4 linked regions of the Homo sapiens genome follow. The protein of the gene in region 1 purifies or fractionates together with the protein of each later gene. This does not show direct contact. Each region holds a gene or a part of one and is shown on either strand. Other genes may lie near its edges.

Region 1 (7,025 bases):
TCAAAAATAAAATAAAATAAATAAATAAATAAATGTATTAAATCCATTGCTTTAACATTTTGAAATTTATTTTGGTTTCTGTTCAACAAAACCAAACCACATTGGGATGGCATTTACAGAAGCTCAGAAAAACATTATGCACTGAAAAATACTTCTCATTAGACCACAACAAGCTTTAAAAAAATAAAATTAAGTAATTATAGTTAAGTTACAAAAAGCTGAAAGTATAAAACATTGTGGAAACAGTGACCATCTATTAACTGGGAAAACACAAAAGAAGAGAAACAATTTCAACCATTAATCATTTATCAAACATGAAGTCTGGTGCATTAAAGGAATATCTATCAGAGGGTGAGGGGCTGGCTTACTGGCAGTTTGACATACTATACAGCTCAGACCCAAACCCTTCACAGAGAGACTCTAAGTGTACATCTGACTTGCAGAACTAGACGAGTTGAGTCACTGTTAGCTCTGGATATACCGTTAAATTAAACCTCAAAATCTCTCCCCAGGACTCTTGCTCAAGCAAGTCACGCCAAATCCAACCTTCCTAACAGGGGTTTTCAGAAAATGGCCTGCAGAAGCACAGGATCTGGTGCCTCACAGTTTCCTCCATGCTGCAATGCTCTAGTTCTCATCACGCCCATAGCATCTGGCATCAGGTTACCCTGTACAGTCAACGGCCATAGAAGTCGCCAGCAGGGAAATTCCAGAGGTTTAGAATTCTATCAGCACATGTGTCACTGGAAGCCATCATGGGAGTACTATGTCAGAGCGTATGTAACTAGCTGTCAGGTCTTTCCCCGTTGCCTCAGCCTTTCTACACAGACTGGCCTTCAACTTCCCCTGAGTCCAGAAGTAGACTCTTTCAGCAACTCTATTCAGGAATCTGCAGCAGGAAAACTGCTTCCTCTATTAACATCTATGACTGAAGCACAGATGTGTCTAATAGAAATCACCCTTCACCCAAAAGCTGGGCGCAGAAAGGGAAGCCCTTAGCTGACTATAGGAGGTGCCTCTTGTGGCTCCACGTGCTTCTTACACACCACCCCCCAGCTTGAGCGATGCCTCAGCCAGCTCACCCTCATCCACACAATCGCTAGAAAACATGCTTCAAATATTCTATCTTTGAAAAGACACCATGCAGAAAATAAGCTTTCCTCTGATGTGCGGTATTTTCTTCAATGCTATTTCTTTCTTTTTTTTTTTTTTTTTTGAGACGGAGTCTCGCTCTATTGGCAGGTTGGAGTTCAGTGGCACGATCTCGGCTCACTGCAACCTCCGCCTCCCGGATTCAAGCAATTCTCCTGCCTCAGCCTATCTAGTAGCTGGGACTACAGGTGCACGTCACCATGCCCGGCTAATTTTTGTATTTTTATTAGAGACGGGGTTTCACCATGTTGGCCAGGATGGTCTCGATCTCTTGACCTCGTGATCCCCCCGCCTCGGCCTCCCAAAGCGCTGGGATTACAGGGGGAGCCACCGCGCCCGGCCTTTCTTCAGTGCAATTTCTAAAGAGAAACTTAAATCCTGTTGTATTCTTTCAACACAAGCAATGATACTTCTCAGAGTCTGCTCAAAAGCTCAGCTCTGTGGACTCCGTGACAAAATGTACGCGTCCACTGCCGACCCTCTTGGTTTCTGAAACCAACCTTTCTTCCTGCTCTCCTCTTTAAGAGCAAACCCCAACATGTATAAGGTCACAGCAAGTGGTAGCCAGGAAAAGCTGTGGGACCCCTCATTTGAGTCACATCCATATGGCATGGAGAAAGAAAACCTCTCTGCCAGAAGGAACTGAACTCTGGAAGTCCTAAGGAAGGTCACCATGATCAGCAGATAGGAAAGCATTGCCAAGGGCTGTCCCTCAAGAGCTTAGTTTTCTTAGGGAGACCAGAAAGACATCAGATCCTGACTGCCCTGTTTTGCTCAAGTTCTGAAATGAGTGGCATGATGAAGAGCTGGTGGAGCTGAGGGAAAGAGTCAACCATGTGGGGTGGGGTAGTGAGGAAGGTGTATGAGGAAACAAACTGGGCCCTGACGAAACAGGCGGATTGGGGAAGGAGAAAGAAGGAAGGGAGAGAAACCTAACCAAAGAAACATGGGAAGCTGGAAAGTCGAGGGCACAGCCGGAATAAAGGCACAGATGGGCACCCCACAGGAGGGGCCTTGGCCAGGTTGGGATGCAGAGAAAAACAGGCAGGAGGGTGTCAATCTATAGCATCCTGAACCCCAAAAGGTCTGTAACTGGATTCTCTAAGCCTTGAGAAGTTCACACCAAAGCTTCAGACCAGGGAAAATATTTTGGAAAGATCAGTCTTTCCAAGAGTGAGCTCCTTTCCAAGAAGCTGGACAGGAAACCCAATAAATGTGGATCTGAAAAAACAAAATCCAAGAGAGAAGCAAAATGGGCTGGGGGTGTGCAATAAGAGAAGCAAGGAAAATGGAAAGACTGTAGCTGAGGATCTTTTATTAAAAAAAAATGGATGGGACTTTGGTGATGAGAGAGAAAAAGGGCAAAAGTCTGCAGTTAGGAATTTAGGTGACCGAAGACTGTCCTAGACAGTTGGGAGGGACAGGCTGATGGACAGAAGAGAGAAATTCCTTTCAATGACAACCAAGCTGAACTATTCGATACCAGCAGAACTGGGTTCTTTAGGGATTAAGCCAAGACAAAGACTTGGGAATCACTCACTCCGAGGATGAAGAATGGGTTAATGGCTGAGGAGACAGTCAAAGGAATAGAGAGGCCTGGCTTTGAGGGCCTCTTCACCACCAGCACAAGATAAGGCAAAGGACCATTTGTCAGAGACACCAAGAAAGGGGAATTTCCATTTGGATGGTCAATAGTGTCCAGTTCTGCCAAGGACAAGACTAAGCTTTGAGAAAAAGCCATGGATTTGGTGATTGGATAACTGGTAACCTTTAGAAAAGTTTAGTTGACAGACAGAGACCGAAGTGAGTTAGTAAAAGTCATGAAGAGAATGAATGGCAACTTAAGGGAAGCAACATACTGGAGAAGTTGAGCAGCGGGATGAATAACAAATAGGACAGATGGGAACAGAAAAATCTGGGTGCATACGAAGGTGGATGGAAAGGAGCTGGTACAGATGGGCACAACCAGAAAACATGAGGAGGGGAAAGGAAGGGAAAAGGAAGGCAGGCAGGGAGAGAGACGTGAAATAGCCACAGTCTTAGGGGATGCTAGAGAAGCCTAGAAGATTCCTCAGGTTGGTGCAAAGTATTATAAGACTAACGCATCAGTACAGAGAATGACCCAAGAAGGGTAGGAGTTCATTCCTTACCTTCATAAAGTAGGCTATCCGCCAAGAATGAAAATGTCAACTCAAAGCTATGGGCTGTTTTAAGCAAGGTGGAAGATAATATAAGAAGCATGGTCCTTTCTTCAGACTTACTGCCTTGACAGCACAGAATTCATCTTATTTCCCTCATCTCCCAAGTTATTTGTATTTCCCTGAGATCAGCTCAGAAACAACTCTCTTTAGGCTCTCTACAATGCGGTAGAGCATGATTAGAAAAGATAAACCTTCAAACAATAGTGTTGTCCAAGACACTACCCTCACTTATCCCAGGGGAACCCACGGAATTTCTTCATTTGTATTAACTCCTGACATGGCATGGAAGAAGAATTTTTATCAAATACCCTTGGCATCTTATATCAGATTAAAGGACCATTAAATACACTGAGGTAAAATTGGCAGAGAGTATAGTTTCTATTAATAAATCTAAGTCTATTTTGTCTGTTTTAGGCAACAAAGGCAAAATGGACTTTGTGGGAAATGTATCTCATAAAAGCCCTTTGGAAAAACTGCAGACCAAAACCAAAACCCTCCTTCATGTTTTCTCGCATGAAACATAAACTTGCCCTATTTCAAAAAGTTCCTACTGAGTATGATTGTGTGAAAGATCACACTACTTCAAATCATATTTATTTTAAAAATCTGTGATGGGACAGTGGCCTCACTGCCAGGAAGCCCAAGTTCTGTTTTATGCTCGGTACAACTAAGTGGAAGTTGATTCACTTTGTCTCAAGCTACATAAAATAATCAGAAAATCAAGAAGATCTCATGCTAGACAGGTTAGACTTGCACCCAAAAAAGCATCTTTTTTTTTAACCTGCTGTTTTGGTTTGCTGCTGAAGTCTTTGAAGAGAATTATGTATTCAAAGTAGCTCTTTGCCCATTGGCATTTCCCCATCTTCTATGTCTTCTGTAGGGCACATCCCCCCCAAAGTAAGAGGCCTTAGTAGAAAAGCACTTCCACCTGCAGTTTTCCCCTAGGTCTGCAGAGAGAAACAGTGCAGAGTGCAATGCCACAGTCAAGGACCAACTTTCCTACAGAGCCCGGGCCCCAGGGAGGGTGGTCAGCAGCGCAGCCTGCCCAGGCTGGGATCTCCCTTTGGTCATAGCCGTGTTTCCATATACCCCTCCACTCACCCTCAGAGGAGGAACGGATGGAAGCCACCAGCATAAATAAAGGGAACACAGAAGAACAATGTCACCAAAGTGCAGGTGCAAAGCCCAAAGCAGCCCCCTACCTCTGCCAGCCCAGACCCGCCACTAAATTCTAGAGGAGGGTGTCTCTCAGGTCACAGTACTTTTTTCTTCATTTCTTTTGATTTAGAAACAAATCAGCAGGGAGGACAAGGTTCTCAAGGACAAAAAAATCAAAGCTGAAACGAGAGCAGCACAATCCATTGGTGACGTTCATCTTTTTCCAGAGGAATATACCATTCTGTTAGGACTTAGGGGAAAAAAGATCTTTTAGGAGGTGCAGGGAAAACATTCAGAATTAAGACATACTGACCCACCACCACAGAAACAGCAATTAATTAAAATAGCACACAAAATGATTTTTAAAGTTTGAAATGAAACCTAACACTAGAAAGATATACACTTGATGGAGAGAGAGGAATCCTGGCTTCTGCTTCATACTGTTCTGTACTGTTGTGAATTATTTACATGTGTTTTTTGTTGGTGGTGGTTTTCTTCTTTTTTGAGACGGAGTCTTGCTCTGTTGCCCAGGCTGGAGTGCAGTGGCATGATCTTGGCTCACTGCAACCTCTGCCTCCGAAGTTCAAGCGATTCTCCCACCTCGGCTTCCTCAGTAGTAGCTGGGATTACCATGCCCAGCTAATTTTTGTATTTTTAGTAGAGATGGTATTTCACCATGTTGGCCAGACTGATCTAGAACTCCTGACCTCAGGTGATCTGCCTCCCAAACTGTTGGGATTACAGGCGTGAACCACTATGCCCAGCCACATGTGTATTTTTTTAAAAATCATAAGCCATGTGTGGTGGCTCACGCCTGTAATCCCAGCACTCTGGGAGGCTGAGGTGGGTGGATCATTTGAGGTCAGCAGTTCAAGACCAGCCTGGCCAAAAGGGTGAAACCCCATCTCTACTAAAAATCTAAAAATTAGCTGGGCGTGGTGGTGGGCGCCTGTAATCCCACCTACTCGGGAGGCTGAAGAGGGAGAACTGCTTGAACCCGGGTGGTGGAGGTTGCAGTGAGCCAAGATTGTGCCACTGCACTCCAGCCTGGACGACACAGCAAGACTCCGTCTCAAAAACAAACAAACAAAAATCATAAAAGGGGGAAAACCCTTAAAGTCAATTATCTGAAAAGGCAGTAGTCCAGAGCTAAATTGTAAAGCTAGCCTACTGGACTAGTTAGCAAAGATATTCTGAGCTCAGTGGCTCGTTCTGTAGCTAATATTGAGTTGTGCAAGAGAATCGTGTTCCCTGCAGGAAGTCTGGGAACAATTCATAGTTGGGCCACCAATGGTTCTTTGCCAATGTCCTGGCTGTTGCTATGCTGAAAGCAGAAGGAAGGGTGCATGCTGGTAGCAACGCAGTGAGAGTACAGTCTTCCTGCTTAGACAGGTTGTCTTTAGAGAGACCCTTGCTTAGCTCTGCTGCCATGGGGTGGAAGGAGGGCTTATCTGTCTGACAGAGGAATGGATTGGCTGTACTCAGGAACTCCAGCCTACGGTGCTTAAGCCAGGCTGATGTGGGGAGTTGGAGGCCTATGTGCTTCCAGGCTCGTGTTTCCAGGGAGCACAGTCTAGCACTTTACCACACAAAGTGTGGATCCAGTGGCATTTGGTTTCACCTGGGAACTTCCTAAGAATGTAGACACAGGCCAGGCACGGTGGCTTATGCCTGTAATCTCAGCACTTTGGGAGGTCGAGGCGGGCGGATCACCTGAGGTTGGGAGTTCGAGACCAGCCTGACCAACATGGAGAAACCCATCTCTACTAAAAATACAAAATTAGCTGGACGTGGTGGTGGCGCCTGTAATCCTAGCTACTCGGGAGGCTGAGGCAGAAGAATCGCTTGAACCCAGGCAGCAGAGGTTGTAGTGAGCCGAGATTGCACCATTGTACTCCAGCCTGGGCAACAAGAGCAAAACTCCATCTCCAAAAAAAAAAAAAAGAATGTAGAAATATAGGCTCCACCCCACATCTAATGAATCAGATAATGCTTTTTATCAAAATTCCCCAAGGTGATTCAAATGCCTATTAAAGTTTATGGAGCGCTGGCAGAATGCAGAAAGCTCAGGACTGGGAGACTAGGGAGTTGCTATCAGGTCCTGAGTTTGCCACTAACTTGCAGTAGAAACTTAGCGGAAAAAAAAAAAAAAGAGTGTTTCTGCGTGGGCCTATTTCCTCATCTGTGAAGGGAGGTAGCTGCTGTAGAGTATTCCAAGGTCTCTGCTAGCTCTAACGTCACAGATATGTGTATCTAGATGTTTCTAGTTTGTTGTCTAAAAAGGGCGAATGCAACAGCAACAGCAACCGCATCCCCAGAATCAGCCACTGCTGCTTCATGGCAAATGCAAGCCCACTACTGGGTCCATCTGACGTTGCCTATCCCTCCTATCCCTCCCATGGACCTGGCTCCTCCTTCCTTACCTTCTGGTCCAAACGTTGGTAGTCACTGGCCTTTGGCCGCCGGGTGACTTTAGATCTTTTTCCTTCCAGGACAAAAGCAATGATCTGAGGA
Region 2 (7,025 bases), on another chromosome or scaffold:
CCTCTCTCCCAGCTTTTGGTGCTGTTGGCAATCACTGGCATCCCTTGGCTTGTAGATACATCACTCCAATCTCTGCTTCTATCATCACATAGCCTTCTTCTCTGTGTCTGTGTGTGGCCTTTTCTGTCTCCTATCAGCACACTTTCATTGGATTTAGGGCCCCCTCTAATCCACTATAATCTTACCTCCATCTTTACATAATTACACCTGCAAAGACCCTCTTTCTAAATAAGGTCACATTCTGAGGTTTTGGGGGTGGATATGAATTTTGGAGGGATACGATTCAACCCACTACAGATACTGATCAATCATTTCCCAAACAGAAATGCAGTGTTATCCTTAACCCTTTCTCTTATCTCCTGCATCTACATAATTATCAAATCCTGTCAATTCTCCTTCCTTAGTCTTCAATTTATCTCCTTTTCATCAGCCCCATTACCACTTTCACTTCAATAACACACTTGTCTGTATAACAAACTCCTTTGCTATAACATTGAATAAACCTAGTTATTACTCTCATTACTGTGCCTGTACCTAAACAGATATGCATTGCTAGAGAAAATCACACAACAGTACAGACCGGTTGCACCATAATTTATGATAACTAACCCCAAGCCATTCCTCAACAATGCCTGGCAGTCCTGTTTCTCTGGCCAATTGGCTCTCCCACTCTTCCATTACTATCTCAAACCTCTTCTACTAGCCTCATGCTCTTACTCTCACCTACTTTTAGCAACTGACGTGGGCTCCTATTTTACAGAAAAAAAAAAGCCATCAGACAGAAACTTCCACAACCTCCTACTGTCTGCTCCCATTCTCTCCCTCTTCTAAGTAGCTGTTATTACAAAATCTTACTAATATTAACTACCCCACTCTTTTTCTATATTTGGCTTTTCTCTCAAGTAGATGCTTCTCACAGACTTATGTTTTATTTGTTTTTATTTAAAAACAAAATGAAAACAAAACCTCCCTTGTACCCTACAATCTCACTTCTTGCTATCTATTCAGCCACACTCACTCTTTCTGTCTGCTTCTCTCTCCACCTCCTCCATCCCCCATCAGACATAATGTGTTTGTGCAGAGACTGATTTCTCTAGCTCCGTAGCCTCAGGCCTCTTACTTAATCCCTGTAAAGTTGGAGTAACTATACTAATAAACCTGTTTCCAGGACTGTTGTGAGAATTGGATGAATCAGTCTATGTAAAAGACTCAGAAGAGAGGTTGGCCCATGGTAACTGATCAATAAAGTTGGCAATATTGTTATTGCTAATAATATAACACATTCATCTATCTATTCAGGCAACCAGCTGCACAAGATTGTCACTTGGATTTATCCTGAACTCCCTCATCCCTCTGTTCCAATCCATCTCTAGGTTTTTTTTATTTTTACCTCTCCAGTTTCTCTTGTTCTGAATACCTTCTCCTACCTCTATTATCTTACTCCACACTATCATAATCTCACATAAACAGAAACCTTCTAAACAATTTTCTGCATTCATTCATGTCATTCTCTGCAATTTTCTCCATACCATAGTCAGAGTGAACTATTCTAACTTCATATCTGAGGCTACGAACTGGTTTAAAAGACTTCCCACGATTATGATAAAGCCCCAAATATTTTTGCATGGCCATAAAGTCATGTAGAAATAGTCCCTCTCTGTCTGTTCAAACTTATCTTGTGCCTTGCTTCTTTTGCCCTCTTCTCTTGTTACACATACCAACTATCTCTCGAATCTTCAAATGCACTATGCGCTTGCCCACCACAGGTGCTTTTCACTTCCCATTCCCTCTACGGCAATGTTGAATGGCATTCCTATTTCTCTTAGCTTAATTCATTCCTATTTACACATAATTCCTTTATGTCTTAGCTCAATAACTTCCTCAGGGAAGCCTTCTCTGACATCCCAAAATAGGGTCTCATTTACTCTTATGTACCTTTCATAGTATTCATCAAAGTTGCAATTTCTCATTTACATGATTATTCTCCCAACAAATTCCTCCAATATAATCCAAACTCCATAAAAGCCATGACTACATCCCTTTTTTGCTCTCCATTGTATCCTAAGTGCCCAATACAGCATCTGGCACATAATTCGTGTTCATAAGTGCGTACTGGATCAATATTAAACTTAAGCTTCAATGTTGCAAAACAGCCTATTTAAAAACAGGACAGATTTAAAGCAGCAAAGGGACAAGCATATCACCAGTTCATTATCAATGTGGCTCTAGATCAAAGTTAAAAGTTTCTCTACTGTTGGCTATGAATAATAAATCACTTCAAAGAGATACTAACAGAGCAATTGCTGAGGGAAAGGAGGATGTGAAAGAAGGTGTATTGTTGTGCTGTTACTTTAAAAAAGGAGTAACAGGCAGAACACTCTTTCAAGGCAGAGGTGAATTTTTTAAAGTATTGGTTCACAATCTTTATTCTATTCCAACACACCTACTACTGCTAGTATTACTATTCCTACTGTAAACCTAAAAGGAAAAGGCTGAGGCACAAAATATACTTTAGTTTACCTGAGCCAAAATGAGGACAGCTACTCAACACATATTTCCCAGATGCCTGGGGAGTGCTCTGGCACCTGAGTTACAAGCAGATTTTAAAGGGAAAAAGGAACAAGGCAGATACAAAGTTGCTTGATAAGAATTCTCATTGGTTTACAATCACTGATTAGTGACTGGCTATTCATTGTTGCACTATAAGGTATGACTTATGGTGTCCAGCATATGGTATTTTATGGCTACTTGGCGTCAGTTAGTCTAAATCCTACATAGAAGGTGGCTTCCAGAGATAACTGCTTAGGTCAAAAGGGAGTGCCATAACTGCGGTTTCATTCCAATGCCTCTCTAGGCCTCACAATGGAAAGGAACTCAGTTGTGTTTTGTTTTGTTTGTTTGGGTTTTGTTTTGTTTTTTCAATAGGTTTCTGGGGAACAGGTGGGGTTTGGTTATGTGAATAAGTTATTTAGTGGTGATTTCTGAGATTCTGGTGCACCCATCACCTGAGCAGTGTACACTGTATCCAATGTGTCATCTTTTATCCCTCATCCCCTTCCCACCCTTTACTCCAGATCCCCAAAGTCCATTGTATCATTCATATGCCTTTGCATCCTCCTAGCTTAGCTCCCATGTATGAGTGAGAACATACATTTTGTTTTCCACTCCTGAGTTACTTCATTTAGATAATGGTCTCCAATCAATTCCACCCAGGTTGCTGCAAGTGCCACTATTTCATTCCTTTTTATGGCTGAGTAATATTCCAGGTGTCTGTATATATACACACCACATTTTTTTAATCCACTTATTGATTGATGGGTATTTGGGCTGGTTCCATATTTTTGCAATTATGAGTTGTGCTAGTATAAACATGTTTGCAAGTATCTTTTTCATATAATGACTTCTTTTCCTCTGGGTAAATACCCAGGAGTGGGGTTGCTGGATCAAATGGTAGATCTACTTTTAGTTCTTTGAGGAATCTCCACACTGTTTTTCATAGTGGTTGGTGGTTTACATTCCCACCAACAGTGTAAAAGTGTTCCCTTTTCACCACATCCGTGCCAACATCTATTTTTTTTTATTTTTTTGATTATAGCCATTCTTGCAGGAGTAAGGTAGTATTGCATTGTGGTTTTGATTTGCATTCCTCTGATCATTAGTGTTGTTGAGCATTTTTTCATGTTTGTTGGCCATTTGTGTATCTTCTTTAGAGAATTATCTATTCATGTCCCTAGCCCTCTTTTTGATGGGATTGTTTGTTTTTTTCTTGATTTGTTTTGAGTTCCTTGTAGAGTCTGGATATTAGTCCTTTGTCGGATGTACAGTTGTGAAGATTTTCTCCCACTCTGTGGGTTGTCTGTTTACTCTGATTATTTCTTTTGCTGTGCACAAAGTTTTTAGTTTAATTAAGTCCCATCTATTTATCTTTGTTTTTGTTGTGTTTGCTTTTGGGTTCTTAGTCATGAAGTCTTTGCCTAAGCCAATATCTAAAAGGGTTTTTCCAATGTTATCTTCTAGAATTTTTATGGTTTCAGGTCTTAGATTTAAGTCTTTGATCCATCTTGAGTTGATTTTTATATACGGTAAGAGAGGAGGATCCAGTTTCATTTTTCTACATGTGGCTTGCCAATTGTCCCAGCACCATTTGTTGAATAGGGTGTCCTTTCCTCACTTTATGTTTTTGTTTGCTTTGTCAAAGATCAGTTGACTGTAAGTATTTGGCTTTATTTCTGGGTTCTCTATTCTGTTGCATTTGTCTATATGTCTGTTTTTATACCAGTATCATGCTGTTTTGGTGACTTTGGCCTTATAGTATAAAGTCAGGTAACCTAATGCCTCCAGGTTTGTTCTTTTTGCTTAGTCTTGCTTTGGCTATGTGGGCTTTTTTTGGTTCCATATGAATTTTAGGATTGTTTTTTCTAGTTCTGTGAAGAATGATGGTGGTATTTTGATGGGAATTGCATTGCATTTGTAGATTGCTTTTGGTGGTATGGTCATTTTCACAATATTGATTCTACCCATTCATGAGCATGGGATGTGTTTCCATTTGTTTGTATCACCTATGATTTCTTTCAGCAGTGTTTTATAGTTTTCTTTGTATAGGTCTTTCATCTCCTTGGTTAAGTATATTCCAAAATATTTTAATTTTTTTGCAAGTCTTATAAAAGTGGCTGATTCTTGATTTGATTCTCAGTTTGGTCACTGTTGGTATATAGGAGGGCTACTCACTTGTGTACATTAATTTTGTATCCTGAAATTTTGCTGAATTCATTTACCAGTTCTAGGAGCTTTATGGATGAATCCTTAGGGCTTTGTAGGTATACTATCATGTCATCAGCAAACAGCAACAGTCTGACTTCCTCTTTAACCATTTGGATGTCCTTTATTTCTTTCTCTTGTCTGATTGCTCTGGCTAGGACTTCTAGTACTACATTGAATAGAAGTGGTGAAGGGGGGCACATTCTTCAGATAAAAAGTTTCTCTTTTTTCTTCCACAGTGCCACTACTATTCCAATCAATGCCTATGATTCTAGCATAGCCATGATCAAGTGGCTCATGACAGCAAAAACTCACAAGCATGTGGAAAGTGTGAGAGATGTGAGCAATTTGAAATGGCACCACCTCAAAATACACTGATATTCTCTGCTATTCCATTCTCCTCAGATATGACTCTTCCCAAATATTGCTATGGCAAAAAGCAGTCACATGGATATCATTTGTATTTAATTTTAAGATGTAATCTATGTTCTCAAAAAACTAAAAATAGAACATATACACTAGGGATATATGCCCCCTAAAAAGGAAATCAGTATCTTGAACAATATGTGCACTCCCATGTTTATTGCAACACTATTCACAATAGCCAAGATACGGAAGCAATCTATATTTCCACAACAGATGAAAAGATTAAAAAAAAAAAAGTGGTATATATACACAAAGGAATACTACTTAGCCATAAAAAAGAATGAAATCCTGCATTGAAGACCACATGGATGAGCTTGGAGGACATTAAGTAAAAATAAGCAAGGCACAGAAAGATACATAATGCATGTTCTCACTCAAATGTAGAAGCTAAAAAAATTGATTTACCAGGCATGGTGGCCCATACCTGTAATACCAGCATTTCGAGAGGTTGAGGCAGGAGGATCTCTTGAGCCCATGAGTTCAAGACCAGCCTAAGCAACATAGTAAAACCCCATCTCTACTAAAAAAAAAAAAAAATAAAATAGAAAAATTAGCTGAGTATAGTAGCTCATGCCTGTAGTCCAAGCTACTTGGGAGGCTGAAGCAGAGGGATCAACTGAGCTGGGAGTTGGAGGCCACAGTGAGCTATGATTGCACCACTGCACTCCAGCCTGGGTAACAGAGTGAGGCCCTGTCTCAAAAAAAGAAAAAAAAAAGTTGACCTCATAGAAGTAGAGAATACAACAGTGGTTACTGTTAAGTTGGGAAGGGTGAGGCGGGTAGGAAGATGTTGGTTAACACAGCGGTCACCAATGTTTTTGGCATCAGGGACTGGTTTTGTGGAAGACAATTTTTCCACAGGACAGCGTGGGGATGGTTTCAACAAAAGACATTAGACTCTCACAAGAAGCTGGCAACCCAGATACCTCGCATGTGCAGTTCACAACAGGAACAGGATTTGTGCTACTATGAGAATCTATATGAGAATCTAGTGCCACCACTGATTTGACAGGAGCCAGAGGTCAGGCTGTAATGCTCTCTTGCCCACTGCTCACCTCCTGCTGTTCAGCCAGTTCCTAAGAAGCCACGGACCAGTACTGGTCCACAGCCCGGGGTAACAAAATTATGGCTAAATAAGAGGAAAAAGTTCTAGTATTCTATAGCACCATAAGATGATTACAGTTAATAGTAGCTTAATGTATATTTTCAAACAGCTAGAAGAGCAGGTTTTGAATTGTTTCTAACATGAATAATGTTTGAGGTGACAGATATGCTAATTACCCTAATTTCATCATTATTATGTGTATCCAAATACCACACTGTGCCCCCTAAAAAGATGCGACTATTATGTCAATTAAAAATAAAAAAGAATAGCCCTAATAGCCTATTCAAGTAAAAAAGTAACCTATGATTTTTTTGCAGCAAAATTTAATATTTTAATAATAAATATAGTGTTTAATGTTAACTACATTATAAATTACCCAAATTGGAGGTATCTGTTTCTTCATTATATAAAAATATTTTATTACAGTAATATGATTAAAGGTATTAACCTCTGAAACCACTGAATGTCACGTTTGTCATATTAAACCATAAGTGGTTTCAAATATGTCTTAATGTCCATATAATTAAAACAATAGAACAAATTCAATCCTTTTCCTAAAAAGTAAAAAAGGGCAAGAAAATATGGAAATTGTTTCAAGCTTTCAAACAATATATGGAGCAACCACTGAAATTCTGTAGATGGAACAGCAGCAAGTCTACTTTGAAAGGCACTGCTGACAATGAACTTCTTTCCACAGCAATACACAATTGATTCCATAAAAACGGCAGAAGCTGCT
Region 3 (8,006 bases), on another chromosome or scaffold:
AAATATGGGGGGAAAGGGTATGGACACAAATGTAAATGAAACATAATTTTAAACAATATTTTGAATAAACTGCTTTAACATACATGTCCTGAGCCTGGGTGTTGAGTCCCGAGTTGTGCGGCAGTGCCTGAGATTGGTCTTCAGCACTCCCTCCTGCTTAGTTTACTAAACCTGCAATCTGAGGTGAGCTGGCTCTCTGGGTTTTGCCAAGTGGAGAATAACAGTTCTGTGATGAGTTACTTAACAGGCAGGGCACACAATGACAAGCCTGGGCTGGGCTGCTGAAGCAGCAGAAATCCTAGTTGGACTCCCCTCAGACGATCCCTAAAGCCCAATACTGCAGCCTAGTACCCTATGAAAAACGTCAGGATGTGCAGAAACTGGCTAAATATGGAATAAAAGCCCTGACTTGAACAGTATGAGGCAAGAGAAAAAATATAGGTCCACTTATCTCTAAAAAAACTATAGCTAGCTTTTAAATTCTGCCTTTCTGTGCATGGCCCGCTATCTTTTTTTATGTCCATACTTTACAAGCCAAACAAACCACATTTTTTTTTTGGTATGAGAATGAAATAAATTTAGAGACACTTCTAGTGTCTAAATCCATGGAAACAATTGGGGAAGAAAGAAGACTACACGATTTTCCTATACATCAGGCATTCGTGACAGCAGGGCTCTATTTACCTCCTTCAGAAACCATCTTAAGGCTTCTCTTTAACCCTGGGTCCACCACACGAAGTTAATGAGTCTTCCACTGCAATTTCAAAAGCTATTGCATTTACACACCTCTTCCTCAACCGACAAATCACTAAAGCATCCTAAGGGGTAGCATTAAATTTTATGGTTCGTTGACAGAAAGAATAGAATCCCAAATCACCAATCCATGTGTAATTAATTGTTCATTTCCCCCACTTTTTCTACCTGGTCTCCGTACCTGTCTATATTGCCACCAGGAATTCTTTAAAAAAAACAAAACAAAACAAAACAAAACAAAAAAAAACAAACTAAGAATCACACACTTCAGGAGTGTCTGAAGACTTCTGCATGGAAGACCCCTCACACCATCCAGGAACTGAAGCCCACCAGAGTGAGGAATCAGCCTCCGGGAGGCGAACGAGCACGCTTGCTCTTTCTAATCACGTGTACTAATGAAAGTGGCAGACTAAGGAAAGAGAAACGCCAAGGGTGGCTTATGTGTTTGGTTTTCTTTGCATGAAAGGCAGAAAGCTTTGCCAGGTCTCACCAGCACACCAGGCTATGCAGAGTGGCCAAGGCACAGTTTACCGGGAAGCAAAGTTTTAAAAATCATTCCAGTTTTACACGATTATATCTCTGAATGGACTGCACGGCTTTTGCTGCCTGCATGCTCTTTGCTGTTCAAGAATAAACCAAGTCTTCGCGTACATATACTACCTATACCATTTTTTACAAAAACAACGCTAAGAGTACAATGTCAGCTCAGAAGCTAGGCCGATTCAGCACGTGGAAAGAGGGCTTTATTTCTGCCCTTCTAGATAAAACAAATCCACGTAATTTACCAGAAACCACATAAGGCACCCATTCCACCTAACATCTTCGGCTATGAATGAATGAATGAAGCAAAGAAAAAACCTCTGAAGCAGCCAAACCCCGGCGTGGACATTTAGGGGTCTGACTTCAGAACTGAAGTCTGTTCATCTAGTTAGTTCCCTCTGGCTTGTTTCAGGATACCACTCTCTTGTTCCAACCCAACCACCCGTAGTCCATCTCCATTAACTCAGAATTTTCTGGGTTTGCGGTGACACTAAATGTCACAGTAACGAGGGTTACAGGAATTCGGAAAAGATAACGCTGCTTTCAAAGCCGAGGAGCCAGTAAAACACTACAAACGTCCCCTGCCGGCATGCTCCAGCACACAGCCCGACGCCCTGCTCTCCCGGCCGGCGCTCGGCCGCAGGACCGCGCTGTCCCGGCTCCTCTCGGCGCTCACCATCCTCCCGAATGCCCAGGGCCCGGCCGTCCGGAGCGGCGGCACGAGGACGCGGAACCGCAGAGCGGCTCACACGGTCCCCACAGCCAGATCACTCGGCCCCTGGAGCATGTTAAAAACACAGCCACAGAAGAGGGATTCTCCCTGAAGCGGGGAGTGGGGATGGAAAATGCAAGCGCAGGAGGCCACGTCCGGCTCGCGCGGGAGGGCCGGGGGCCGGGTTGGGCAGAGGGTAACGCTGGGGCCGCAAGGGAACGGCCGGGACTGGCCTCGCTCGGGGCGCAGGGGCGCACTGGCCCCTGGCTCGCACGGGCCCTGGGGCTTTACTTGGCACGGGAGCGGCCGCCCCTGCCCCCCAAAGGTAAAGGGCAAAGAAGGTGGCAGAAACACGGAACCCACGCCCCGCGGAGTGACAGGGGGAAAGGGACGAGGATTTGCAGCCGCTGGTATCAAAGGGCTGAAAAGAAACTTGGACTCCTCTCTCCTGCTGTACATGACGCGTTGGAAAAGCGGTCGCCTCTCTCTCCTCTCCTCCCCACCCCCTTTGTGTTTCCCAACACCCCCATCCCTAAACTTCCAACCGCAGGGGATGGGGCTCCCGGCGGCCGGACAAGACTCGAATTACGACGAGCAGAGAGAGGGGCGACGTCCACGAGAGGGGGCAGAGAAAGGCTGCGGGGGCCGCCCTTTCGGAGCCCGGCGTGCGCAGAGGGGCCGGGTGCACCCCTGCCCTGGGCACTCGGCGCGGAGGCCCGGGACGAGGGCGGGCGACGCGAGCGGAGGTCCGGGCGGAGGAGCGCAGGGGCGGCGCGGAGAGGGCAGGGGACAGGGGCGCAGGGTGGGGGGTGGGCGCAGGGGCCCGGCCGCGGCAGGGCGCTCCACTCACCTTCCTGCCGGCGCCGCCGCCCGCGCCCCCGGCCAGCGCAGAGCCGCCCCCCGAGTACATGTAGTAGGCGATGCCCAGCACCCACAGGAAGGCGAAGCAGAGCAGCATCCGCGAGCGCCGCCGCATTCTCCCAACTCGGCCGCCGGCGGGGCCGCCGCTGCTCGCGAGTGCTGCCTGGGCCGGCCGCGGGCGCGGTGGGGGCCGGGGGAGGAGCGGAGGAAGGGGAAGGGCGCGGCGGCGGCTCCTCCTCCCGCGCGGTGCTACTGCTCGGCGGCGGCGCGCACTCGGCGCCCGAGCTCCGCCCCGGGCCGGCGGCGCCGCGCGGCACCAGAGCAGGAAGCAGCGGCCTCGGAGGCGGCGAGGGGGGTCAGGGAGCAAAGGGCGACCAATCGGCGGCGGCTGCGGGGGCCGGGGCGCGGGCCGCGGGAGGGGACTGCCGCGTCTCCATGGCTGCAGCACGCCGGGCTCCGCCGTGAGGGCCTGGGCGCCGCCCCGCCCCCGGCCGCCCGCCCCTCAGCGTGCTCCCCCCGCCGGCCGCCCCCTCCCCCGTGAGTGACAGGTGGCTGCCCCGGGACCCGACTGGAGCGCGCGCACACGTGGGCAAAGAGCCTTGCTCACGCACACGGGGCCTCTCGATTACGGGGGCGGTAGTGGCCTCGGTGCTTCCTGCCCAGACTGTCACCTCTTCAGCCTTGGTCTTTGGGGCCACCTCAGACCCTTAACGGGCTTGCTCTTATTGGCCAACTGACCTGAGTTTTTGGTGCAAACCGCCCGCTTGAACCCGACTTTGCTGCTGCTTGCTGCAGTTTTCTCACTAATCTTGCAGCAAAACATTCCTGACCCGCTGGTATCGATTTTATTTATCTATATAGGCAGATGTGGAGGTTTTGAGTTGGTAGGAACTGAGAAGGTAATTTTCAAAAGAACATTTTTCTGTGGGTGACAGAGCTATCAATGGTAGAGTTGTTCTTTTCAATAAACACAAAATGAGGAAGAAGGAAAGCAATAATATATTGTTTAAAATCTTTTCTTTCTCATTCGTTGCGTTCTTTAAAAAGCACATTAAGCATCTTTAACGATACAAGAAAACGATCTGTCTTGTAACATAATCTATGTAACCTTGGTGATGCCCTTGCAACACGCAAAGCTTCCAGTGTTCCTAAGAAAGACAGAAATTTTACTTAGAACTTGATATATTAAATGTTTTCAGGAGCTTCTCGGTCAGAGGATAATGGCAGCTGCCTGATATAAGTCCGTACCCATATCCTCAACGAAACAAAAACAAGCCTTCAGCATTACTTAGAGAGAATGCCATGAACTGAACATTAAATTACTTAAGTAGAAGAAAGAAAAGATACCAAATTCCAACTGAGCTCCCTCCACTATTGCCAAGGACTTAAGTGAAGTACAGGGTTGTCACCTCTTTATAAATAGAAAGTCCAACACCAAGAACTAAAAACTGAACAGAGGTCAGGTGCCTTATTGATCAAGGGAAGAGATTTGAAAGAAAATGGGACAAGAGGTGAGAGGCTTGAAGGAGCCTTGTTTCTGGGAAAAAGTCAGATAAATACGAAAAGAAGATAATGTCCTTCAGAGGCCTGACAATGAAGGGAAAGAAGGAAGTCAGAAGGGAAAATTACAAATCCTGCAGAAATGAAAGAGAAGACAGCCAGTCCCCTCCCCAAACACCAACATTATCTATTAAAAACTGCATTTCAGTACACAGATAAAAGAAAACACTCTTGAACCGGGAACCCTGCCTCAAAATGCCTAGTAACAGAAAAACATCAAATCAACTGCATTTAAAGATTCTGCAAAAAGAAAACAGAAATCACATTTCTGATGATAAAAAATAAATCATAACATTTTCGCTGATGAAAACCCCCACAATAAAAACCATGAAGCATAAGAAAATTGTAATACCACATGTCAAACTGAACAAAGTGTCACGTATTTGTATACACATACACACACACACACATATCTAGGATAAGAAATTTCAAGAACTGAAGACAGACTAGACAAAAATTAGGAAGAAATGCAACAAGGGTTGAGCAAATTCAAGAAGGAAATTGAAAGTAATGACAAAAACTATCCCAGAAACAAAGAATAATTACAAGGTGTCCAAGGGAAAATATATTCAAATGAAAATATGTAAAAGGACACTGAAGAATGGCAAGAAAACAATCAAGAAATTGAAAATAATATAAAGATAGAAGTAAAAAGGTTCAGAGAGAAGAGGTTAAAATAAAAGCCAGGAAAGGAAGACCAAAATACATGTTAAGTGGAGTCCCTAAAGTACAAACATTAAACAATAAAACCTAATTAATATTAAAACTATAACCCCAGAAAATAATCCAGGAATAAGGGAAAATTTAAATGTACATGTCAAAAGTGACTTCCATGTACCTTGGGAAATGATCTGGAATTATCAACTCCTAAATATATTTTAGTAAAACGATTAGATTTTAAAGGCAAAAAAGATCAAATTGCTTATAGAGATAAAAATTTATGCTGGCATCAGACTTCTGAACAGCAACATGCAAAGCCAGGCAACAGTGGAGCAGCATTAACAAGGAACAAAAGTGCCAGGCAGGCTGGGCATAGTGGCTCATGCCTGTAATCCCAGCACTTTGGGAGGCCAGAGTGGGTGGATCACCTGAGGTCAGGAGTTCAAGACCAGCCTGGCCAAAGTGGTGAAACCCCATCACTAAAAAAAATATGAAACTTAGCCGGCAGGTGCCTGTAATCGCAGCTACTCGAGAGGCTGAGGTGGAAGAATCATTTGAACCCGGGAGGCAGAGGTTGCAGTGAGCTGAGATCATGCCATTGCACTCCAGCCTGGGTGACAGAGCGAGACTCCATGACACACACACAAAAAAGTACCAGGCAGTGATTTTTATACCCAGCCCTCAAGTGTCAAGGTTGTAGGCAAACAGATATGACCTGAATGCAAAAATTCAGAGAACGTGACTCACATGGGCCTTTCATGAGGAATCTTAGAGAATGAGCTTCCTCCAACCAAGAGACAGCTGAGGAAGCCAGCAGAGTGACTAATGGAGAGCATTTTGTATATTCAGAAGGTGAAAGACTAGTGTATATACATTATACTTTCTGATAAACTTAGAACAGGTGCAACTAAAGACAACTGGAGGAGAAGGGGAAGAGCGAAGGGAAAATAGAATAATATCATTGTCTGCAATATCAGTAGCAGGTAGTAGTGAAAGGATACCATATAAAACAGACAGACCAGATGTTAAAAGGTTAGAAACAAAATATAGGAATTAAGGGTAATATATTAAAAATATAAATAAAAATCACTACAACAAAATATATGTATTCCCAAATATTGGAAACCCTATTCCAAAACCCCAAAAGTTCTAAAAATAGCAAAGAATACATACCAAATAATGAAAGAAACACAGTAAGTGTGGCACAGTGATGCAGTAGTTATAATAGGAAACAATATGACACAGCTGAGACCAACCCACATCAGATATAACAATTTATAAGTGGGCTCAGTTCACCCTTTAAAATAAAAGATTTTCAAATGTAGGCATAACGGAAACCCCAACTCTGAAAAAGCAGGTGCTGTGATTCTGATATCAAACAAAACAGAGTAGGCCAAAAAGCATTAAATGAGATGAAGAGGGACAATTTATAGCCCAAAACTTCCCTTCCTAAACACTTATCAATTGTATATCATTAGGATTTGATCTGCAAAGTAAAATCATTATTAGTTTGATGGAATAAGCGATGTATGATAGAGATTAAACTTTAGACAATGTTAGAGGTAGAAGAAAAAAGGTTATGGAAGTCTTTCCATTGTACATGGGGCAGGTCTGAAGTCACTGTAGTTTCTAGACCTGGGAATCAGAAGAATAGCTAGATGTGACATGGGGCATTTCAAAGACAAAGTCAAAACTGCAAGGACAAAATGTACCTCATGAGAACAACTAGAATTCATGAGGACAAACTGTAATGTACCTCCAGTGTTGATTATGGAAATAAAAAACAAAACACAACAAAAACCCACAGTGAGATACCACTTCATATCCATTAGGATAGCTATTATATAAAATTTTTTTTTTTTTTTTTGGTGGACACTTGCTCTGTCGCCGAGGCTAAAGTGCAGTGGCACAATCTCGGCTCACTGCAACCTCCACCTCCTGGGGTCAAGCCATTCTCCTGCCTCAGACTCCTAAGCAGCTGGGCCTACAGGCATGTACCACCATGCCCTGCTAATTTTTGTATTTCTAGTAGAGACAGGGTTTCACCATATTGGCCAGGCTGGTCGCAAACTCCTGACCTCATGATCCACCTGCCTCAGCCTCCCAAAGTGCTGGGATTACAGGTGTGAGCCACCGCGCCCAGCCTATAAAACATTTTTAAAATAAATAAATAAATAAATAACAAGTGTTGGTGAGGATGTAGAGAAATTGGAACCCTTACGCACTGCTGTTGAAAATGGTATAGTGGTTCCTCAAAAAATTAAATTTAGAACTACTATATGATCCAGCAATTCCATTTCTGGTTGTATACATAAAGGAATTGAAAGCAGCGACTCAAACGGATATTTGTATATCCACATTCATAGCAGTGTTATTTACAGTGGCCAAAGGGTGGGACAACACAAATATCTATCAACAGATAAATGGACAAGCAGAATGTGGTATATCCATGCAATGGAATATTATTCAGCCCTAAAAAAGAAGAAAATTCTAACACATACCAGAACATGGATGAACGTTGAGGACAATATGCTAGATGAAATGAGCGAGACACAAAAAGACAAATACCAAATGATTTCACTTATATGAGTTTCCTACAGTAACCAAAATCATAGAGGCAAAAAGTAAAATGGCAGTCACCAGGGGCTTGAGGAAGAGAGGAATTAGGAGTTCCCATTATTATTTATGAGTTCGGAGTTTCGGTTTGAGATGATAACATTCTGGAGATGGATGGTAAATGTACTTAATGGCACAGAATTATACACTTAAAATGGTTATGATGGTAAATTTAATGTGATGTATATTTCATCACAATTTGAAAAAACTACAAATGACAAGTTGGGAGAAATTATTTCCACAACATTATAGATAAAAAGGTAATATCTCTGACATATAAAGTACTTAACATTAAGGAAAAACC
Region 4 (6,921 bases), on another chromosome or scaffold:
GGAGGGGCAAAAGTCTGGGTGGGCCAATATTAAATAGGAACAAATAGCAGATCTGCCTCAGCAGTAAAGGGGGGAAGATGCTGGGCCAGTGATGGTCCAGCTCACTGTGCCACTATGGGCCTCACTCCACCGGAACCATCACACAAGGGGTACATCAGGCACTCTCTGAGGGCCCTGTCCTAGTGCTAACCTTGAGGCCCTCAGAAGCTCAGTAGCATTCATTCACTACATCTCCTACTTTTAAGATATATATAAAATAAAATTATATGGTACAAGGTCTATCAGAGTATTTTTACAGGAAGCAAAGTGCCATTTAGGACTAGGATAGATGACAAAAGAGACAAACACATTTATGGTCAGTAAAGGACTGCTTTCCCCCCACAAAAAAACACAAAAAAAACACAAGTTACAAGTGCTCCCTCTCACACTGCGCTCTCTCTTCCTCCCTCCTTTCTCCTCCATCCCTGGATAAGTAAGGATCAGGTGCCAGGGAGCAGGGGTTCAGGCAGCATAGTATACTAGAAAGACAATGGGACTTACAGTCAAGTATTTATTGGCTACTTAATATTCCCAAATTACCTAACCATCCCTGGTATGTTCCCTCATTTACAAATTGGGTATAAATGATCATCAAATTACAGAGCAGTGATCAGAATAAATCAAACAGCATTATAGTAAAATGCCTGCACAAAATGTCTAAATGTGTTACAATCCCTTCTTTGCACAGTAGCCTTAGTCTGAAAACCATCACTCACACACACACACACACACACACACACTCCGTATACACAAATTCACAAAGCCATGCTCACTGCCTGTGACTGACAAGGAATGGGGGCAGGTACTAGCCCTCTGGCGCTTTTATCAATTGATAGATATCAATTGGCCAATATCAATAATTGATCAATTATCAGTATTATCCACCCTATCTGTCTGTAATTAGTATAAAACTTCTTTTCTCTTTCCCTTCCCTAAGACTCTACCACTGGAGCTACCAATACTAAATCAGACCGTGTGAATGTGCCCTTTCTATTCCTTCTAGTTACTCTGAAATATTTCCCAGGATAAGTCAAATGCTGGTAGCTGTTTACCTGTAAATGATGGGGTACAGTATAAGCAATATGATTAGTTACAAAGTATTGGTTTTTGTCTAGCATTACGGGTAACTTTGGTCAAAAAAGACCAATACTTTTCAAACTACTGGTATCTAGGAATCTCAAATGCGAGTCAACCAGCATGTGTGATGAACACTTAAAAAAAAGAGAAAAGAGCCACTGCATTCCAGCCTAGGCGACAGAGTGAGACACTGTCTGAAAAAAAAAAAAAAGAGAGAGAAAAAAGAATGCATTACATGTAGAAGGAGTCAGCACTACTTCATGAAATGTCTATTTCAGTTACATAAGTACTGTACGTGTATGTGAGCATATTGGTTGTGATGTAAAATTAACTTCACATGATAGATCAGTCAAAAGAGTTTGAAAGCCATGGAATGTGGCAAAGAAACAAGCAGAAGTCACAAAGGCCTGAATTGTCCCCACAAACTCTGTCCCTGCAAATGGAGCTCCACAGTGAATCCCACATTCTTCCTGTGTCCTACAGCTGAGAACCCCAAAATTACCGGCCTGGAACCCATCATCAGCTGCCATACCAGATTCCCCTTCTCCAGATCCTAACCCCTTTTTTTCTCCACTCCATCCCACCTCATCCCAGAAAGCAGCCAATATTTTCCCGCACGAACAGGCACTCCACACTCCAGCAGCTGCCCTGGAGACATTGACAGTCACACCTGGGTTTCCTTAAGCCCTGACACCACGACTCCTGCGATGACACCTCCTTCCCCCAACCCCGAACAGCAGAGCCACTCTCAGAGTCAGAAGTCCCTAGCTGACCCTCCAAGGCTTCCTGGGCGCGCAGGGTCGTTCTTCCACCTTCTGTCCCCCGTGGACTCTCACCTGGAAAACGCACACCCCCCTGCCGGGTGGTTAGGCTAAGATTATGTGGGATAAGACTTTAATTCTCCAAGCATCTCCGAAAGACAGCCTATCCGGGGAGGCTTCTCCTTTAATCAGCCTTCAGCTGAATCCCTCAGCCCCATCCCTTAATGCTCCCGGCGTTAATTCCTCAAAATAATGCAGTCAGAGAAAGTGAACTTGGCCGCTAGGAAAGTTACCCCAGAGGAAGCGACGGGGAGCTAGGGCGAGCGGGGAGCGGGGGACGGGGTGGGGGGCGAGCGGGGAGCGGGGGACGGGGTGGGGGGCGAGCGGGGAGCGGGGGACGGGATGGGGGGCGAGCGGGGAGCTCAGGGCGCTCGCCCGGGGGGTTTCCTCCGCACAACGTGAAAAATCTTCTAGCCCCCAAGAAAAGAAAACAAAACCCAACGTGGCCACAAACCGGATGCCCTGTCACTGAAGTGCGAACACCACTGTGGGGCTGGGACTCAGAGGAGAGGAGGGGAGGGGAGAGGAGGTCGGCGGGGCTGGAACAAAGCCCTCGGGGCCGCTCCGAGAGGCCGCGCGCCAGCACCCAGCTGCGCCCCGAGGGAGAGAGCTGAGGACTGGCCGACCCCCGCCCTTCCCCAAGCCCGGGAGCCCGGGGCCGGCCCTGGTGCGGGGTGCGGGGCCGGGAGGGCAGGTGCGCGCGCAGCGAGCCCCTCCCCCGCGCCCCCAAAGCTCGGGGGCACCCCGACCCTCCCCACGCGCCTGGCCCCGGCGCGGCCCTCACCCGAGCGGGGGTCGAAGGTGACCACGAACACGGCCACCACCTGGTCCTCCTCCACGTCGCCCAGCTCCAGGCGCCCGGGCTGCAGCAGCACCTCCGGGGCGGCCGGCTCCTCGGGCTCCCGCCTCCGGGGCGGCTCCGCGGCCGGCCGGGCGCCCCCGCCGCCGCCCCGGCCCCAGCCTCCCGCCTGCGGCTGCGGGGCCTGCGGCAGGGAGACGGCGGGGCCCTCGGCCCAGCGCAGCAGCGGCGCCGCGTCTCCCTGCTCCACCATGGCTAGGCGAGGCGGAGCCGCGGGCGCGAGGGGCGGGGCGGGCGGGCTGCGGGAACCCCCCTCGCCTGGCCGCGCCAACGCCGCCGCCGCCCGCCGGGTCTGGCGCTGCCCGGGGCCCCGCCGCGGAGGCGCCTTTCCCACGGAGCCAGAGCAGGCGTCCGCGGAGCCGGCTTCGGGAACCGCGAGCCTATTCGGAGGCGCCCGTGTGCACGTCCGTGTGTGGGACGCGTGCGGCCGGAACGTTCATCCTTGCGTCCATACACCTGTGTGCGGGTGGAGGTGCCTTCTCACCTAGGGTTCCGTGGTATAGCTACCACTGTGAGTTTTTATGTCACCATTATTTTTTAAAGTCCGCTGGTCCTGTGGACCGTGACAGATATGTATTACATAATCCTGGATGTGTGGCAGAAGCTGCTTCTAAGCAGAGGAGTGAAGCAGAGGTGCTCTGGCTACCCAGGTGTTTGCAATATACTCATCAATAAACACTGAAAAGGCCATAGGGTTAAAGTTTGGGAATTTTGTTCTTCCTTTTATATTACAAACTGATTAGGATGGAGATTATGAGTTTATTTCCTGGTATATATACAACTTGAGGGTATTAAATTAGGAGGTGCTGGAGCATTTGTGGGACGAGGGATATTCCCTCAGAAGATCAGGAAAAGGAAGTTGCTCAGGGGAGAAAGAGGAAAGTCAGCTCTAAAGCTGATGGCTTTGGAAATGGATTAGGGGTTTTCTGTGAACCCCCATTTTATATTTAAAAATAAATTTTACATGCCTCAATCCTTGAGGTAAATCTAGCAGCTAAGTAACTCTTTAAGAGGAGATGTGTATAAAAATAGGAATAGCTATTAAAATAGAAAGAAGGAGGTGGCAAGAGAAGGAGGTACACAGTTCATCCAGGGTTCAGCAAGGCTCCATGGTTTGCCTGTTCGCAAAAGGACCCAGTAGAGCTATGTGCTGGGTGCTACTCCACGGGATGTTTATGAACCTCCGTGTCCTACACGTCAGCACTGCAATGATAATGTGATTTAACCCCTATCCCTAAGAAGATAATCAATGACTGCCCTAGGCTGCCACTTCTAATCTAAAATCTATGATATAACAATAAAGAATGTACTTATGCAGCATTTTACCCCCAAGAACAGGGTCTACTTTCATTATTTACATATTTAGTTCAGCCTTTCCTGAAAGGTAAAACTTCAGCATAGGAATCTCTTGATTGGATCAGAAGGATGAAGAAGTAGCTGTGGATGTTTGACCAAGTTACTGATGACCTCCAGAGCTCATCCCTTGGAGCACTGACAGCAAATAAGTCAAGACGGAGCACAGTAGAGATCCATCTCTGAGAATGTCTCCTCCATACCTGCTCATTTCTTCCCAGTGAGGCACTGTGTGTGTGTGTGTGTGTGTGTGTATGTATGTATGTGATGTGGGAGAGGCAGAAACAGACATACACACATACATACACACACAGAGACAGACAGAGAGAGAGAGAGATCTTATTTCTGTGGCCGGGGGCGGTGGGGCTGGCCTTGGTGCAGGTCACACAGGTGACCCATTACCTGTTCTAATCTTAGGGACTCCGGGAATGACCACAGCCCAACTGTGACTAACAGAGAAAAGGTCAGACTAGTGGGTCTGTACCATCGTTTTAAAATGTCTGCTCCTTAAAGTATCGGTAGGATATCATCAATCTCTAAATTACTGGGACATCAAATCAGAGATCTATTCCTATTCTAAGTATGCTATGTGTTGTGTGTGTAGACAAGTGGTATGTTTCTACTGTCACAGCTATTTTGATGAATAATCTCTAGTTCTAGCAAATGGGAAACTTTGGCAAGAGAAGCAATTTGTTAAAATCTGTTTGATTTATTCATCAGATAGATTTATAGTAGATTTCAAATTAATAGAATAACCTAGGGGTTTTTATTAATGGCACTAAAGTATCCATGGGTAAAATATGTTGTCACTGATTTGCTTCACAATACCCCAGCACTCACCCTCAATGAAGTTGCAGTTATGAACTAAACAAGACTGTAAAGCCATACATAATTTTTGAAGCTAGGTTATGGATACATAAGGACTCATTATAGTATTTTCTCTATTTTTGGTATGTTTGAACATTTCCATGAGAAAAAGTTAAACAAAAAGGAGGAAAGGGTTAATAACAGACTCCTAGGCTTTAAAGCAGCCTCCAGGCTTTATTTACTTAGCCCGTAATCCTTCCTTGGAATTCTGTTGTGCCGGCAGTGCCACCCATGAGATACAATTTTATGAGCACTTTGAAATGAGAAATGTGATGGGCAAATATCAAGTATTGTTAATGATTTATGTAATTATCATTGGATTCATCGCAGCTGACAAGTGGCTGCTTCTGTACACTCTCTCAGCAGGCAGGGAGGAGATTAGAAGAAGGTCCCCCTTCAAGGTTGCTGGCTTTGCTGACCATCCTTGTCATAGGAACAGAGCTGTGAGGAGTCAGGAGCACTGGAGACCCCTAGTTTCAATGGATTCACATCCACCGCAGCGGCCCCAATCTGGACCTGGTCAGTGTTGCCGCTGCTGATGGATTTGTCCAGGGAGCAGGAGAACATACACTGGTGATTAAAATAATGTTTTCTCTAAGTTACTGCAAACTTTCTCCTGTGTAGTTGAGGCAACACTTCCAGTTGTGGTGAGAGATTGAACAAAAGAAAAAGCATACAATGTTAAAGCTGGCAGGACCTTAAAGACACTGCCTAGCCCTCTCACTCAGCAGTGAGTCGTAGATGATTCCTCCAGATCTTGACGAGGCCCACAGGCCCTTGTTTAAGAACGTCGCTTGCTGCTTTGCTGCTTCTATGGGGCACATTCTGGTGATAAAGGCCAGCTGTTTTTCTCCACCAGCATGGAGTTCTCTCAACTTTGTTTCTGGTTTTTAGAGTCCCTGGCCAATTGTCTGGAGACCCAGAGAGCCACTGTTAGTCTAAGGTCGCTTCATAAATAAGGGTAATCCCGGTCCTGGATTCTGCCAGACTCCTAGAAAGACTGACAGTGAAAGTGTCATTTCTTGCTTGGGAAACCATACTTCACAATGGTTTTCAATAGGGCAGACCCATTAAATACATAAGAATCCAACAACACTCTTTTTTCAGAGTCGGAATGACTCAGTTCTAATTCAGTCTTAAATAAATAATGTGCTGGACCTTTACTTAGGCCTGTTTAAGTGTTTTTTACAATTCTCTCTCCTGACTTGGGGGACAATTAGGCCAGCATGTTCTTCCTTGGAGCGACAAACTCTCAAATAGCTCATTTTCCATGGCCTTAGCTTTACTTTGACAAAGGAACAGTCTAACCAGGAAGGTGAATAAAAGTTTCCACGTCTTGCAAATTTGAATAGATAGATTTTCCTGCTTCTGTTCTTCCCATCAACATTTCATAGGCCTCAGAACCAAGTCTGGTCAGAGTGGAGTCTAGGTGCTTCCTTATCACTCAGCAGTGTGTCTGCAAGGGGAGAACTTCCCTCAAGCACACAGTTGAGGGAACTCAGCCCTGAGATGCAAGGCTGCCCGCTTCTTGCACATCTTACTCCTGGGAACTTCGCTTTCCCCCTGTGCAGCAACTCCTGACACATTAAGAAAAAAATTCAAATTTTTTTTAAAAAGTCAAATATGGAGTATTTTAAACATGATTGAAATATATTAATTTATTTCCCCAAATTCATCCAAAAACAATTTATTGAACACCTACTATATGTTAGGCATTAAGGGGGAAACCCTCCCCTTTTCCTCTTATTGCCACAGATTACATGGGTCCCCCTTTTGACACATCATCTCAACTATCACCTGAAGCTTTATGCTGGGATGGATGCCTGTGGGATTAACATATACTGAAGCAGAGATGAAATTTTTCATAATGGAAAGAGGCTAAAAATGAAGAAAAGGCTACAATGT

Evidence for each region.
Region 2: the proteins of TGOLN2 (region 1) and GOPC purify together in Homo sapiens (affinity purification with mass spectrometry; 4 studies listed by BioGRID and IntAct, with this or other methods). This does not show direct contact.
Region 3: the proteins of TGOLN2 (region 1) and GALNT2 purify together in Homo sapiens (affinity purification with mass spectrometry; 5 studies listed by BioGRID and IntAct, with this or other methods). This does not show direct contact.
Region 4: the proteins of TGOLN2 (region 1) and DENND11 purify together in Homo sapiens (affinity purification with mass spectrometry; 4 studies listed by BioGRID and IntAct, with this or other methods). This does not show direct contact.

Annotation. Positions count from the first base shown.
Region 1 is NC_000002.12:85,317,981-85,325,005, forward strand, and holds the end of TGOLN2 (trans-Golgi network integral membrane protein 2 isoform 1 precursor), read right to left. Parts: intron 7,019-7,025; coding exon 6,935-7,018; intron 4,820-6,934; coding exon of another isoform or gene 4,762-4,819; coding exon 4,756-4,761; coding exon of another isoform or gene 4,725-4,755; 3' UTR 47-4,724; downstream 1-46. UniProt on the Homo sapiens protein: May be involved in regulating membrane traffic to and from trans-Golgi network.
Region 2 is NC_000006.12:117,592,491-117,599,515, forward strand, and holds part of GOPC (Golgi-associated PDZ and coiled-coil motif-containing protein), read right to left. Parts: intron 1-7,025.
Region 3 is NC_000001.11:230,062,256-230,070,261, reverse strand, and holds the start of GALNT2 (polypeptide N-acetylgalactosaminyltransferase 2 precursor), read right to left. Parts: upstream 3,025-8,006; 5' UTR 2,982-3,024; coding exon 2,856-2,981; intron 1-2,855. UniProt on the Homo sapiens protein: Catalyzes the initial reaction in O-linked oligosaccharide biosynthesis, the transfer of an N-acetyl-D-galactosamine residue to a serine or threonine residue on the protein receptor.
Region 4 is NC_000007.14:141,699,165-141,706,085, forward strand, and holds the start of DENND11 (DENN domain-containing protein 11), read right to left. Parts: upstream 3,003-6,921; 5' UTR 2,990-3,002; coding exon 2,722-2,989; intron 1-2,721.